2 separate regions of the Homo sapiens genome follow, and region 2 is linked to region 1. A link means that fine-mapping ties the variant in region 1 to the expression of a gene that starts in the linked region. Tissue or cell type: whole blood. Region 1 holds a variant in brackets; the other region holds the start of a gene. All regions are shown on one strand. Distances are between the middles of the regions.

Region 1 (8,330 bases):
TCTATGCAATCTTTTTCCATCCTTCAGGCAGGTTTATCCTGCCATGCTTTGTGTCCCAGTGCGCCCTCTGCACCATTCTGTCTTCTCCACTTTTTGAAGAAAGCCTCTTGAAGGTAGATGCAGTGTTCCCAGTGCCCTCTATGGGAGTTTTTCACTTTTTTGGTGCTATGAAACCCTTTGGCAATCTGGTGAAGCCCTGTATCCCTTTTCCAAATAGCTTTAAATGCACAAAATAAAATACATTAGATTACAAAGGATATGAATTATATTGGCACAAGTATTAAAATATTTTCCAAAAAGTCTATTCAGTCTTACAGGTGATAATGGCTGCCTGCTGTTGTCAGACACAGAAAGCTTCACCGTCCCTTGTAAGTTTCTTTTAGATCTGTCTACACTCTTGTAAATAGTTCCTTTCTCAAATACCTCCATTTAAGTGTGGTAGCTCTTCCTCCTTCCACCCTCACTTTGATGAATCTAGTGTGCAGCTCTCTTATGGGGTTTTGATTTTACCCATGGCCGCAGATCTATCCGTGCATCAGACACACTCATACACAGCTGAATCCCAGTGTAGATTCCCTGGTACTCATCCCTGACATTCCTACAGAAAGATCATTTTACTGTACATTTGACCACCTTCCTGTTTGCTTTGACATCTCATTTATTCATTCATTTGTTCAACAAATGGTCCACATTTTTGCATGCCTTAAGCTGCCTTTGCTGTTTTTAAAATGGTGAGGCAGCATACAGATTATGGAATTTGGAGAAAGGCAGACATTTTTGCCACTTACTAAGAGGAAGCTCGGGCAAGTTAGTTAGCCTGCCCCGACCTTGGTTTCCTTAATTCTTAAGGATGGCAGTTGTGAGTATTAAGTGGGCTAAGGTATGAAAAGTGCCGAGAGCCATGCCTGGCCCACAGCCGATGTCCTAGATCAGAGTTCTAAGGAAAATGACTTTAAGGCAGATATCTGTGTAAAGAAGTTCCTGCAGGCCAGGCGCAGTGGCTCACGTCTGTAATCCCAGCACTTTGGGAGGCCAAGACGGGCAGATCATGAGGTCAAGAGATTGAGACCATCCTAGCTAACATGGTGAAACCCCGTCTCTACTAAAAATACAAAATGTAGCTGGGCCTGGTGGCGTGTCCCTGTAATCCCATCTACTCGGTCGGCTGAGGAAGGAGAATCACTTGAACCTGGGAGCTGGAGGTTGCAGTGAGCCGAGATTGCGCCACAGCACTCCAGCCTGACGACAGAGTAAGACTCCATCTCAAAAAAAAAGAAGTTACTGCAAAGTGTTCCCAGGATCAATACACATGGTTGAATGAGGATAATAGGACTAAGAAGAGGACTGGGTTACAACAAAAGCCTCAACTAACCCCAAGACAGCTCTGAAGTTGGGACAGCCCTTTTAAGTTGTCCCACTTCGAGGCATGGTGTTTTCCCTTTTACCTACCAGTCTGGAGAAGACTGTTCCCAAGAAAAGAGCATAATTTTGGAGATGAGCGTTCTCTCTACCTGAGAACAGTGATCAGAGAGATACAAGGCTGAGAGGTGTTAGCTGCCAACAGTCCCAGCCACTAGGGGAAAGAGTGCCTCAGTCCTAAAGGGGAGATCTGAGGGACACACTACAACATCTTCAACACTGAATATTTGTTAAATAACTGGACAGCCATCACCATCTCCTTTAACTTGCATCCCTTAATGTGTGTAAGGACACAACCACTCTGAAAAGCATCGATACAGACAGGAATAACCAGATAAAATGGTTTTGAACAATAATTTGTCAAAATCCATTTGAAGGCTAGAGTTGAAAGCCGAAAGCATTTGAAGAGGTTTCAAACCATGCTTCCTTGGGTAGGGTGAGGTGAGATGAAAAGGGAGACGTAGGATGATGTTAAAGCTGGAAGAATTCCAAGCTTGACTTTATTCTATGTATGATTTCTCTAAAGGTTTGTCTTCAAAAGCACACCCTCAGAGTACACATATGTTTCCTAGGAGGGGAGGAAAGCCCCTCACCTTTTTTCAGGCTGTGTCTATTGAGGGGGATGCTAACAGGCCTGGACAACTTGGGCTGTGTCAGCAGCAGGCTCTCTGCCCCTGTTGGTTAATCAGCACACCAGGGTGCGAGCAAGGCAGCAGGCTGCCACAAGGGCAGGGCCGGGAAAGTTGAGTGTGGCATATACAGGAGGCTTGGACAGAAGCGCTCACAATATTCATTGCTAACAGGGTCCTCTGCTTCAAATCCCTGCTGCTCAGGGAGAACAAAAGAATTCATGGAGACTCAGGGCTCTTCCTGGAGTCTTGCACATAAGCAATAGCCATTCTTCATGGCTATAAGGCAGGATCGAGCCCTCAAGGCGTCTTTCCTAATTCCTGGCACCCTTGGATTACTGCAGACAAGCTTTCCATTCAGGATGGAAGGAGACCCCTGGGAAGCAGCACCTGCCCAGGGAGGGGAAGTGCTGGAGGAAGTTCCAAGCTGAGAACACAGGTTTACAGCTGGTTTATTATAAGTGTACTCTCTGTTCTCTTTCCAAACAAACAGCAGGATTGGGAATGACAATTCACCTCAAGGATTTTAAAAGAAAAGTGATGGAAATAAAGGGTGGTTAATTCACCTAAAACTCCAAACACAATCCGTGTTTTGGATCCATGTTATTTTGCCTCTAGGCTTTTTGTTTTTGTTCTTTGTCATTCAGTGACACCCTCTCCCTCCTTCTTTTCATGAAAATTCTGCCCGTTTTTTCTAAGGCCTGGCTAAAATTTCACCACTAAACTTATTCCAACATTTTCCAACTTCCCCTGACTACACATGCCTTTCTTGTGTAAAATCTTTCATTACATTAGGGTCATAGAATGATGAGAATCTTCATTACTAACATAGCTGACATTTATTAAGTGCCAATTATGTGCCTACACTGTGCTAAATGCTTTACATGGATTATCTTATTTAATGCTCAAAACAGGTCTATGAGTGAAGTCACTTTGTTAGCACCATATTCCATGTAAAGAAACTCATTGCCCCAGTTCTTTTCCTTGTCTGTATCCACCCCTTGGCCATAGGGGTTCTTCCCAGTAGATGTAATGCATGCTTCCCTGTTCATTGTCTTGAGTCTCAGCTGTGTGAGTTGCTTTGGTCAATGGGATATTCATAGCCATATGTCAGACAAACCTTGACATGGATTTGCACAGGGAGTTTTTCCTCTAGTGCTTCCACCATTGCCATGAGAATACACTCCAGTCAGACTGCAGATCCAATGGGGATAGCAGACATGGAAAGTAGACCTGAGCCCAGCTGCCAGCCTAGAACCCAGGCCAGCTAGATCGGCAACTTGAAGCCTAGGTTCCCAGCTGACTAGCTGCCTCTTGTGTAGTCACATGAACAAGAATAAATACTAGTCATTTTAAGTCACTGAGTTTTGAGGTGGTTTGTTACTCAGTGATAGTTTACCGATACAGGAACCCACCAAGAGGTTGTTACTTGTCCAGGGTCTTACAAGTAGTGATGATAAGAAGATTCTAGCACAGACTGGTTCCAGTTCAGCTCCCACTTTCTTAATAACCATGGCTTCCATTTTCACCACCACCACTACCATTATCATATTCTTCCTTCTCTTCCTCCTCCTCCTCTTCTCCTTCTTCGCCTTCATCCACATCCATTTACTGAATGCTTACTATGTGCCAGGCATCCAAAGAAGTACCATTCATGTATTATCTTATATATCAACAACTCGTTAATGTAAGTACTATTACTGACCACATTGTACAAGAAGTTTTGTGACACAGCTTGTAATGGACAGAGCATGGGTTCATTTCAGATCTGCCTCATCTCAGAGTTTTCATAACTTCCATGTTCTACTTCAATACACTGCTACATTTTGAGAGAAATCATAGCCATCACTAGAGAAAAATATTGATCACTTATGCCTCTTTATACCCCAACTTTTTCAGGAAGCCACCTCAAACCCCCCAAGGGTTGCTTTTGAAAGTTTTTGTCTTGCTTTTGAACATTTTTAAGAATAGTAAGGTCAGGTGCGGTGGCTCATGCCTGTAATCCCAGCACTTTGGGAGTCCGAGGCGGGCAGATCATGAGGCCAGGAGATTGAGACCATCCTGGTTAACATGGTGAAACCCTGTCTCTACTAAAATACAAAAAATTAGCCAGGTGTGGTGGCAGGCATCTGTAGTCCCAGCTACCTGGGAGGCTGAGGCAGGAGAATGGCGTGAACCCGGGAGGCGGAGCTTGCAGTGAGCCGAGATCGAGCCACTGCACTCCAACCTGGGCTACAGAGTGAGACTCCTTCTTAAAAAAAAAAAAAAAAAAAGAGAATACTAAGTTCAGTTTTCAAGCATCTGGAAGATCTGCTTTAAACTATTATTTTAGAAACAAGGACCCTTGGGCTTAGAGAAATGAATTTATATGCAGCAAATAGTAGAATATCCAAGGCCATACTCTGAATGCTCAACTTCAGCCTTCTGCTGGTAGGAGACCCCAGCCCATCTGTGTAGAGCAGAAATGGCAATCTGATGTCTCACTACTTAAGTAGAATTTCGTTTTTAGCTTTACTTTAGCCTTCACATCCAGAGGTGTCTGAAGGCAGGCAAGCTTCATGGGTGTGCAACCTGAACAGTCACATAAGGTTCTGCACTTAGAAGGTCCCCATACTTGGTTTAATACTGTACTGCCACCATCTTTAAATTCTTAATTATTTCAAAATAAAAGGGCTGCTCTTTTATTTTGCACTGAGCCTCACAAACTGCATAACCAGTCTTGCAGAGGTATCTGATGCTTTAATTCCATAGATTTTGGGGGATTCTTCAATATGCAGTGAGTTGCTTCTCAACTTTGCACTTTGCTGACTATCATCTATAAGGTCACAGGCCCAAGGAGAAGAATGTTAAGAACAGGATACTAAGCACCACCATAGTCCAACAATCCAGTGGTACCTCCATGCAAATACAGGTGTGGACTTCAAAATGCTGGCAGCCAGATTTCAGCCATTGATTAAAAGTGACCCTTCTTCATTTGAATACTCCCTTCTCCC[A/G]TGCTCACAGGAGGCTTCACTACGTCTTTTTGCCATGAAGTCATTCCAAATTATCACCATCCTTGAATCATATTACCTTCATAAGAAGTCACTTTGAATGAATAACACTATTTTGACCCTGAGAATAATACAGAATGATCTTGAAGCTATTTTAATAAAAATAAATCATGAAGTATCTCCTTCCATTTTCCCTACCTTCATAAATAGCATAGTTAATAGATAGCCTTATAATAAAAGATGTCGGTGTAATGTAAAATCCACATAAAATATCAACCTTAACATCACAGTGGTACGAGTCAGCTAATTTCTCCTCCTATCCCAACCTTGTTCTTACATTCAAAACTTTTAAAAAAGATTAGATCAATAGAACTACATGTTGGCTGTGAAAAAAAGTGACTTACCCCATGAGATAGAAAAGACTAAAACCTCTATAAAGGTGAACTAATAGGAAACTATAAATGAATTGTGTTGCCACATAGAGTCATCTGAAAAAGTTTTATTAAAAATGCCTCCAAAGTATATTAGATTTTATATTATACCAGGTGGAGCTAGGATGAGGGAGTGAGTTTATAGAGGAACTGTTGAACACAATTTTATTAGAATGGTTGTTCCCCTGATTATAATAAGGAGAGAAATAAGACTTATTAGTTTGGTTATTTGAAACATGCACACATACACTTTCTCACACAACTCTAGTTCTGGGCAGGGTAAAAGTTCCCTTCCTCAGCTGAGAGTGAGCTTGAAAATGTTTTATTGCTATTACAGGAAACGCTGTTTAAGTATCGTCTTTTATAAAATGCTCCCATTGTAAGACACATTCTTGGTTTTATTTTCTGCTATGATGATGGTAAATTCTGATTAAACATAGGGGATTGTTTACAACACGGGGAAAGACCAGCATGCAGCCCTAAGCGATTTAAAGTCAGAAGTAGATAAGATATTTTAGAATGTCAAAGTAATTTGCCAAATACAACATGGGGAGAGGTAGAAGAAAAAAGGCATATTCTTTTATGTTTCATTCCTTAAGGGGGACATCTAAAACATGTATCGATTTAACATGGCTCGGAAATTAAAGTTATGATATCAATAACATATAGCTAACCACATGTCAGAATGAAGGAAGATTGTATCTTGGAATACAGGAGTCTTCCTTGTGCAAATCCCATTAGGACCAATAGGGAGTTATTCATGCATCCAAATCCCTCCCGTCCTTCCCCTCCCCACCCCCAGACACAGACACCCTTGTTCTGAATGATCCGTGTATTTATCTATTTCACATAAATCAAGAATTTAATTAAAAAAAATCCACAAACATGGCTATTTGAGAAATGAATCATGAGAGCTGTATGTATAAATCATATAGACCTTAAAAGCGTTTATGATATAGCCCCTTTCATATAAACCGACCAAATGTTTTGGAGAGCTAAATCATAGAGAAAAAGGAAAATGTAGTAAATAAAATAGAAAATCAATGGTTAAGCGAACTAATGAACAAAATATCTAGATGTCACTCATCTTTGAATGGCTTCCTTAGAAATTTTAACAGGAACAGGAATTGCAAGAAATTATTACTTTTGGTAAAGCAACTGAACATGTTTATAGTCAAAGATTTCTTTAAGAAATATTGCCAAAAAAACTTTTGCTAAGAAAAAAAAGGACAGTGGATTTAGAAGAATACATTAGAAATAAAAAGAGTCAGTAGATAACAAAAATATTCATTTGTCGTTACAGATCTGTTTACCAAATACTTGTTTATGATTTACTAATTCTAAATCTTCCTTTCTAAAAATGTTATTTTTCTCTAATTATTTTAATTATTTTGTTCTTTTTGCCAAAAAAATGCAATATAAAAATGTTTTCACTTATTTACCGTAAGTTTCAATCATAACTCTTAGTTTTCTAACCTTCTAAATTACTAGTGATCTGCATACCTTGTTGGATCATCAAAGACTTTTTATTTCTCTAGATGAGAATAACACTAAATGATAGTGTTTTCCATATTTTTCTCTTCAGTAACACATGTGTATGTTTATTTTGTATTTCCTCTCTGATTCTTTTATTGCCTAAAGCATTTAGCCGTTTCTGAACTAATTATGTTTCTAGGTTTATCTATTTATTTAGTATCTCTCTCACCAGACTAAGTTTCCTGACTGCAGAGACTTCGTATTTTATTGCTTTAGTGTTTAATATCATTTCCAGCATCACATATATATATATATATATAGGTTAGAAGACCAGTTGAATGTGTAGAATGAATTGATATTTGGGTAGCCAATAAAACTGATCAAGGTCCGTCTTTTTGGATGCACCTAGTTTAGCAAGCAGAAGATGTGTTTCCTAATGTGGCCTGGGCACAGTCTTTAGCCATTCACCTTTTTCAGGAATTGATTCAGCCTCTGCCCTTCCCAGAAGAGCCACATCCAGTGATTAATCAACATGGAAGTAACCAACTCGGGACAATTTTGAAGGGCTATTTCAGCTTTAGAGCCCCCTGTGAGTTTGGCCAAAGCTGCCAAGGGGCCTGTATCACAACTCAACTTCTCCATTTGCCCGTAATAAACATCTTTCATGCTAAACCAGTGAGGCTAATCTCCAAAAATGAAAAAGCAAAAAAAAAAAAAAAAAAAAGCAGAAACTCAGGCACCAAAGTGACTCAGGGTACTTCTTTTAGCCATTGAATCAAGTGGTCTCAGCCAGTTATAAGGACAAAACAAGCATTAGGAGAGATGCAACACAGCTGTCAATTTCAGGAAGGAGATGGTGGATCTGGATTATAGGTAGATAGGGTGTGCTATGAGGCTCAAGGCTGCCAGGTCTGAGGAGCCTTTAGTTCTCCAAAGTTTTAGGTCAGAGAGTATGGCCATTGGAGCAAATAACTAGTCTGCCTCACCCCTGCCTGGTTGAGAGAACTTGTTGGAAGACCTCTGCTTGGAAACAAGCACCTACATCTGGCCTCATCAGAGAAAGAGGGGCCTCCTGTGAGGGTCTTTTCAAATGCTGCACCTGCCCTGGTATGTCCTCAGGCTCTCCTTCTAGTTCCTGGGGCCTCAGTTTACCCACCTCTACATATTTCCTACATTACTTCAAAGAGGTGCTGGGAGACTTAATTAATGTTTGTCAAGCACATCTTATATGAAAGGAATCGTATGCAGTAAGTTCAAAGTAGTCTTGGCCCTGCTGTTTCTTTCATGTGTGCTTAGAAGATCTTTCAACCTTGATAAGAAGAAAAAAATAAATAAATCCCCACTTGCTGAAGTGCTTGGATTTGGACTGTCATATTATGATGCTG
Region 2 (8,330 bases), 130 kb after region 1:
ACCTGAAGTTATTACAAGTTGATTTTAATCAAGTTGGTCACTTCTGTACTGTTTCTCAGGTAACATTTACACTCACAAAGATATAAATTCTGATTTTATAAACTCAAGCATGCTTTTTAAGTTAAAATAACACAGTTGAATAACGTGTAGCCTGTTTAGTTCTGATCAAACCACTTCTAGATGAATGATGAGAATATGCAGACATCACTGATAAAATCCTCACACAATGGAATGTTTTAGGTGTTAACTAACTTAAATGATCTTCCTTTTAAGTTGTAACAGAGACACAGCATCTTCCAGGCCTTAAAAATAAAGTTGAGAGCTTCCATGCTAAATTTCCAGAAGAGGTGTCTAAAACAGTTGTTCTTATTACATTCCTATACAAAAAAAAAAGTATTCTAATCAGCATTACCTGGGAATGATTAGCTGGATCTATAATCATTTCAGGGTTAAGATGGCAGAATGTACACATACACACAAATTTTACATATGACAACAGGTGATTTCTGCTTTCATTGGATGAATTCTGAAAGAGTGGAGTGAGATCTTACTGCCTTTCAAATCTGATTTCTGCTAGCAGAGAGCACCTCACTTAGAAATGTGCTTGTAAATGAACTGATGATCAATTCAGTGTCCCCGTCGTAATGTGTAGCTGCCTCAATGAGAACGTATCTTCTGCTATGTGGCTTGCCTTTGGGACTTATTCCCATTACCAACAAATACTCTCACAAGTATAAGTCACCCTTCACACTGGGAGAAAACATCTGGAAGTGCCATTTCCCATTAGTCTATTATCAGTGTAAATTTCCCACTTGAAATTTACCACCTAAGCAGGGAAAGGCAAGAAAGAGAACTTCACTCCCAACTCCCCAAATATCTGCCAAGTGGTTGCTCTGTGATATACACTTTTGTACTCTTTTCTAGGAATTGAAGAAACCCATGCTCTATTTTAAATGTATTAAGCCAAAGAAGCATTTAAAAGTGTAGAAAAAGAATTGAAGTGGAACATATTTTTGACTAATTGCTCTAAGAACTTAGGTACAGCAGACCTCAATAGCTGCTGTAAGACATTTCCAGTCCACTAAATGCCCTTCTGATGAAACAAGCAGAAATATCCCACCTTAGAAAAACCACATGTAGTATCATAAAAGAAAAAAAAATCCACATTTCGGTGCACATGAAAAAAAAACAGGCAGCTGCTACAAACGCTTTTATCTGAAGGCTTGCCTTGTCTCTACTCAGAGCCTATCTCAGATTTAAGCACAGGACAAGAAAGTCATTGTGGAAACAATAAGATTGATTGTAGTATTGATCTCCCACGGGGATTAGATTGGGATTCAAAATCTTCCAAACCAGGCCCAGATCAACTATAAATTAGAAAGACTTTGGGGCCCTGGGCTTTGATTTTTCAATACTATCTCTGAAAACTCTGCCCTTGGCTCTGTCTACCCTAAAACCCTGGCTTAAGCGGCAGATTTATAGAGCAAAAGCTTCCAAACAGACTTAAAGAAATCTCAATCTGCCTCCCTTTTTCTCCTTTTCCCTCTGTGGAATTCTTGCACGTTTAGCTGACTAGAGGCATGCCTTTTGCCCTCATCTTCCCCATCACTTGATTTCTCTCCAATTCTTCCAGGAGGAGTAGCTCTTCTGGCTGCAAGCCAGGAAGAGGGTGCGGAGTTACTAAAGGGGAATCCCTGGCTCCCCCACCACACAAGCAGTGAGTTAAAATCAGATTCAGAAACGATAGTACAGAAGCAAGAGTGGAAACGTCCGCTGGTGCCCCGGCCAAGCTGCCTCTACAGGGACGGCTGCAGTCTGCCCACGGTGGAGGGCTTTGCAGGGTGACTCCCCGCCCCCACGCCCTGCTCCATGCCTCACCTTCATGGTGGAAGCTGCGCACAGTGTTGGCTCGGCTGGCTGCCCTCTCCAACCGGTGGTCTGGGGCGGGTGAGCCCGGCTGACCTGAGTGCCTGCGATACAGGTCTAGCATGTAGGGGGGCACCACGGCGTCCCTGCTGGGGGTGGGTCTCTGTTTCAGGCCGAACATGCTGAGCAGCCGCAACTCGAACTCGCTCAGGACCTCGTCAGAGGGCTGGGATGAGGGGCGGCCCGACGACGCCGCCGCGAACTTCCTGCGGCCCAGCTCCGGAACGAGGCCAGCCGCGCCGCCCAGGAGGACCTGGGGAAGCAGCAACGCTAGAAGACAGCGGGTCCCGGCCACCATGGTCGACCTGCGGACAGGACCGACGTGAGTCACCCGAGTTCCCCGCCCAGTCCTCCCCCCTCGCGCCCCCGCGGCCCGGTCTCCCATTTGGCTGGCGTGCCTCCTCCAGGATGCCCTCCTGGCTTGGCACACTCACGAGTCTAGGTAAGACCGACCGAAGCTCAAACGTTTGGGATAATGAAGGGTCCCAAGTTCCTGAACCAGATGATTTATCGCTCCCATCCAACGCTTAGCTCGTCTGACATCAGATTTGGGATTTGCCCTCCCCCCCAACCAAACCAGCGCCAATGACTGTCACTTTTTTGTGTGTGACACAGCGCTGACAGCCAATGCCGGGAACCTGGGAAAACCACCGCTTGATCTGACACCCTGCGTCCCCTATACAAACCCAAATGCGGAGTGCTGAGCGCTGTCTGGCATATAAACACACATAAATGGTGCATGTGACTTCCTTAGAGGCACTGTATAGAACTTCCTGACACACACACACACACACACACACACACACACACACCCTTATAGCTTCCAGACCCTGTAAGCTCAAGGCCACAACTTCTGAAGCCACTTATGACTTGTGTCCCAGGCCCCTACCCTCAGGGGTGTCTCGAAAGGCAGCTCCATCCCGCATCCCCACAGTGCAGTCAAGATACACATGTATCTTCCCGGGATTACGTAAATGGTGAATATCTATTAATGCACGTGTCAGCTGTTAAAAACACAGTACCAAGTGATCCTTCAGTACTGACCCCTCGCATTTCTGGAAACAAGTAGGGAGAACCCCAAACTCCTAGTACTTTCCTAAATGGGACACGGCTCTGAGCAAAGAAACCAAGTCTCCCGGAAACACTTGAAGAATGGAGATCACCATGGCAGAGCGGACAGGTTCTCAGCTAACGGGTGAAACCCAGGGGCTACCCTCTCAAAGGGATTTCTTTGACCCAAAAAAGTTTTTAAAAAAATTAAAAATAAATAAATAAATAAATAAAACACCTCATCTAAGTGTTAACAGCTCCAAAAGTATTCCAGGGAGAGGGGAAGAAAGAGGGGTGGAAGAGTGCGGGCCGGGAGGGTGAGGCTTACGGTCGCCCGGGGCAGCTGGAAGTGGGAGCCCCTGCAGGGCTCCGTTGCACGTGGACTGGAGAGGGGTCTGTTTACTTCTGGCCTGGACGTAAGGAAGGGCTCTACCGCAGTGGCTGCCCAAATCCCCCTCCCACCCACCACCCACCCCGGGCCCTGGCCCGCGTCCTCTACCTTTAGGAGACCGCAGTCCGTCTAAGAAGCACGCGGGGACACGTCCATTGAAAGAGCGTCCACATGGAAAAACTCTGGTCAAAGGACCTGGCGCAAGGACCGAATGTCCGTTCCTTTTCTTTGCCTCCTCCTTCTCCCGGGTGCCGGCCGCGCAGTCTCTCTTTTCACGCTGGGAACAGCGTCTCAGTGTCGGGCAAGGCCGAGGAGTGGAGGGGCGGTGGGGCTCGGAGATGGCGAAGCAGGCTCCGCTGGGGCAAAGGCACCGGCGCAAAGTGGGGTGCGCAAGTTATTCTCCCTGCAAGTTCAAGAAGTCCCCAGCCAAGTGCTGACACACAACAACAGCGAGCAGGGGGAGGAGTGCGGGGCAGGGAAGGGAAGGGAGAAAGGAGAAGCTGGTGCTGTCGTCCTCCTTAGGAACCAGCGCCCGAGGGACGCGTGGCCCCGCGCGGGGCCGGCTCCGGGACTCGGGGGTCGAGGGTCGGGCGCTCCGCGCTAGCTCCGCCGCGGCCCATGGCTCGGGGCAGCCATCCTGGGCGACGCCGGGTCCAGGGAAGGGCACGGCGGCGATCTCGGTGCCAGGCGAGTTGCCCCCCCGCATCACTCTGCCTTACTCCAGTGCACCCCCATTCGCGCTCGCCAGTTGAAAGCACCGCGGCTCTGGCGCCCCGTCGTCCTCGGGCGCATTCTCCGGCGAGTCGAGCCGAGTCCCGGGCCGCCGAGGCGGGTGGCTGTGCTCTCCCCTCGCTCTCCTAGCCCTGGGGCCAAGTGCCCTTTGTGGCTAGCCTGGGGTCCGATCACACCTCGGCCAGCGCGTCCCAGGCCCCCGATCTCCTGCAGTAGGTGCTCCGCATCGCGGCGCTAGGGATCGGCTCCGGAGTCCCCGGCGCTCTGCGCGCCCGTCCGCGGCTCTGGCGCAGCCCGGGCAGCAGAGGCCACGGCGCTGTGGCGCGCTCTGCCGGGTGCTCCAGCCCGCGCGGGGTCTGCGGCGCGCGGGTGCCTCGCGGTCCCCGGTGATCCACTCGGCGCTGGCCCCGAGAACGTTCGGGTAGCCGGCGGAGGCTGTGGCGGCAGATGTGCGGCGGCGGCTGCCAGTCCCCGGCGGGGTGTGGGAAGCGGAGCGACTAGCGCAGCGCGAGCCGGGCGCAGCGCGGCGGGGCGAGGACTCCGGCGGCGGCGACGGCGGCGGCGGCGCCGTGGCGCGGCGCTCGCGGCTTTTAAAGGGGACGCCGCCTGCCGGCTCCCTCCCGGCCGCGGCCGAACACCTCCCCCTTCGCGGCGCGGCTCGCCGGGGATCCCCGAGCGGGCGGGAGCTGCGCGCAGGGGTGTGGACGGCGCGCCCGGGCAGCCGCGGCGGGGTGGGGCGGAGGGCGGGGGCGCGCGGCCGCCAAGGGGGGCGCTCGCGCCTCCACTCCCTGCTCTCAAAGGAGAGATCAGCTGGCGCGCCGGACCCTCGCGGGGACTCTGGAGGCGAAATCCAGGACAAATGCAGGGTCAGGGTCTGGCCTCTTATTTCCCCGCTGGGCCCGTTATTCAACTTTCAGTTTGAAGTTTTTCGGTAATATACGATTTCAAAAAACAAAACAAAACAAAACACCTCAATTACAGCGTATTTTGGCATAGCATAGACGTGGGATCCACGCTTCTGTTTCCCCGGAATAGGAGGAAAATTAAAAGAAAACAGCAGGCTGGAAATTGAGTGTTTTTAAACATTAATACATAGAGATGTATGTATTTACATATGTAAATGCATGTGTACAAATTTTTTTACATAAATGTGTATGCATTTATTTTCATATCCATACGCATGTAAATTTATAGTTACATAAATATATCCAATATACAAAAATATGTGCATATATTTCTATAAATATATTCATGTATGAGAATATATGCAACCGAAGGGCCACATTTCGGTTAATATGTCTATGTATGTGACATGGATGTCATCCTGCTTTACGTGACATGTGTGTAACGTAGACTGCGTGTGTGGCAGACTGAAGGATGGATGGGAGGGATTTGATTTTTTTATTGTACAATCACTTTGTGCCTTGTGATATTTATCTCACCCAGCTCAGAGGCAGGCGATTAGCAGCTCAGAGGAAGGTAAAATAACGCACTGTGTGAACCAAGCATACAGGACAATTCCAGTTTGGGACCTTGGAACCTTCTACGCCACCCTCTTCCACCAGGCCCCCAAGAAGTAGGGCTGTGACACGTGGCCAAGTCACTCCTCAGCTGAATATTCACTGAAGTCACTCCTCAGCCGAAATACTGCTCAGAGCTGCTGCACGATGAGTCTGGGGCCAAGGCTTTCTGCCCTTCCCAGGATTCCAGGAGCCCCCATGCACAGCACCTCGGGCTTGCCCAAATGATCCCCAAAACCAAGGGCAGAAAATTTTTGGAAAAGGCCAAGTTCTGCTTTCCCAGAGCTATCGGGCCTGCGAAACAGAGAGAAAAAAGTCAGAAGCAGGAGCTGGTAATAGAACTATTATCCATGTGTATTATTTTTTCGGTAGGGGAGCTAAAATAATACTAGGTTCCGCTCACGTAAATCGGATTAGCAACCCACAGAGGCGAATTAGGCACTTGCTGTTTCTAAAGGTATAAAGGTCAAATAAGGTATTTTGGAGGAAGCCTGACTACCAGGAAAATAAAAGGGGGTGGGGGAATTATTCAGGAACATGCTACTTTATTTCCTGAAAAAAAAAAAAAAGGTGCTATAGAAGTTGATTGTCACTCAGAGTCATTGCACCGCAAACAAGGAGGCAATAAAACATATCCTACTCATGGACACAGGGCTTCTGAAATTATTTCCTTTCCTATCAAGTTTAATTGAGAAGTTAACAATTGTTTCTCTCATTACTTAGATTTCAAAAACAAAACAAAACAAAACTTCAATGAGATTTAAGTAGCTTTTAAAGAGGAGGAAAAGTTGATAACTATTGGATGCACCCGAAGAAAAAATAAATAAATATCCTGTGATGACCTCAAGGATGTCTTGCAGCTTTAGAACTTCATAACCTGGTAAGTGGAAACCTTGTCAGTTTAGAATCTGAGGGAAAATGGGTACTTCTGAACACTGTTTCATGTTAGTGCTGCCCATTGCAGAATCTCTTTTATGTAGGGTGTATGATTTCTGAGGAACTACTGAATGCTTGTTCCAAGCACAACTTACATAAATTTTGGCCCTATTTTTTTTTTTTTAGAGATGGCTGCCCTCTTGTGGTGGAAATGAGTTCGAACGCTTGAAAGAAAGAAGTCCATAAATAAATAAATAAATAAATAAGTAGTCTCCAGAGACTGATTTGGGATCGAAGTACAGGATGACTGTACCTACCCGTTTTCCAGGGAAGAGCAATAGTCAGAAATGATAAATCTAAATACAGACGAGCTATTTCTTTTTTTTTTCTCTCTCTTCACTAATGGCTACCTTCCACCTGCAACTTAGAATGCTGGGTTATTTAATACTTTGGGAGAGTGTCTGTTTGCCTTGAAAATATCACTTGCAGCTAACCATTGTCAATTCTACCGTTTTCAAAGGTCCATTCAAAGTTTTTCAGTTCAGAGGGTGAGATTCAGTCTTGCTGAGTTTATCAGACTTAGTGCATCTGCCAGCAAATGTGGAAGGGGCAGAGGTGGGAGTGGGGAGTTGTTTAAGATAGGGATAGTAGAAGTTGCAAATTCAAATGCATCAGAGGGTACAGACAAGTTATGTAAAAAAGCAAAGATGACCAGATAATGATTCCACATAAAGGAGGTTGTTGCTATTCCATTTCAGTCATCTCTTGGCAGTTTCTCAGGAGATAGTGGAAATTTGCATTTGATTGTGTGTGGACAAGACTCGGGATGAAATTAACTGCTTACAGTCATACTTTAGCAATTTTAGCACTTCAGCTCACATGATATTCCATTTTATTGCATTCTGTAGCTATTAGCATTCAGTATTGTTCTTGCTAGGCCAAACATTATGCAAATCAACATTAAAATAGTGATCCCCATGTATTGTAAAGTTCACAGCAGGCATTACGTGATCCATCTACCTTGTAATTGTCATTCCATGGAAACCTGTGGCAACTGCCCTGAGAAACCCTCTTTGCTTTTTAGCATACATATCGCTTTGTTACAAGGGTGACACCCATAACCATCCCTACTTACTTTACCTGGATGAAGTTTTTTTTACAGGAACTTGGAGCCAAGGCAAAAGAGAAGCATTTAGTCAATCAAATGTTTTCCTTTTTGGTGTTTGATTAGACATGGTAGAAAGGATGGGAGAGGTGGAGTGATTTATATCAGAAACTAGGCCAAGTTGGCCAAATCAGGATCACTGCTTTCAGCAAGTACCAACTACATCTTCTTAAAAATTAAAAAGAATGAATTTTGTGCATTGATTAGACTGTCACACAGTTTAAGATGTACACCTTAAGTTATGTCTGTAAACTATGTTGATAACACTCTAAGATGTAGTTGGGTGACCTGGGTTCTAATTCCTGGTTCTGTCATGGATGACTGACTTTAAAATGGTCATTTCATCTGTTAATTGGGGTAAATAAATATATGTTTGCTTGCTTCAGACTGACATGATGAAGGTCAAATGGATAACATGTGTGAACTTAGTTTCTGATTGCTACTCACTCTATGTATCTTCAAATGTATTCTTTGGCCTTCTGTCTGCAATATGGCCTGGTTTTAAGAAATAGGACTTTGGATGCCTTTCTTCTCCTCCTCTTTCTCCTCCTTCTCCTTCTCTTCTCCCAGCTTTTATTATATTGCCAAACAGTGGATATTTCATCAGAAAGGCCACCAGTTGGGTCAGTCAATCTAAAGCAGAGGTCCCCAACCATTTTGGCACCAGGGA

The links. PIP is the estimated chance that this variant, and not a neighbour inherited with it, causes the effect.
Region 2: it holds the start of BMP2, and the variant in region 1 is fine-mapped to the expression of BMP2 in whole blood (TOPMed, PIP above 0.99).

The regions. Positions count from the first base shown.
Region 1 is chr20:6,892,926-6,901,255 of GRCh38, reverse strand. No RefSeq gene overlaps it. Among named protein-coding and RNA genes, the nearest start is that of BMP2, 130 kb to the right of the region's middle. The variant A/G (reference allele first, on the strand shown) is at 5,042.
Region 2 is chr20:6,764,021-6,772,350 of GRCh38, reverse strand. BMP2 (bone morphogenetic protein 2) reads right to left here and starts at 4,665. Exons shown (of 3, transcript NM_001200.4): 1 at 3,476-4,665; 2 at 1,879-2,231. The coding sequence starts at 2,224. LOC105372517 (a long non-coding RNA gene) reads left to right here and starts at 4,867. Exons shown (of 4, transcript XR_937229.2): 1 at 4,867-5,030; 2 at 5,546-5,951; 3 at 6,343-6,499; 4 at 6,682-6,758. RefSeq lists cis regulatory regions at 3,986-4,160, 4,801-4,900, 4,907-5,697, silencers at 4,532-4,581, 4,672-4,721 and promoters at 3,611-4,770, 4,160-4,801, 3,611-8,330.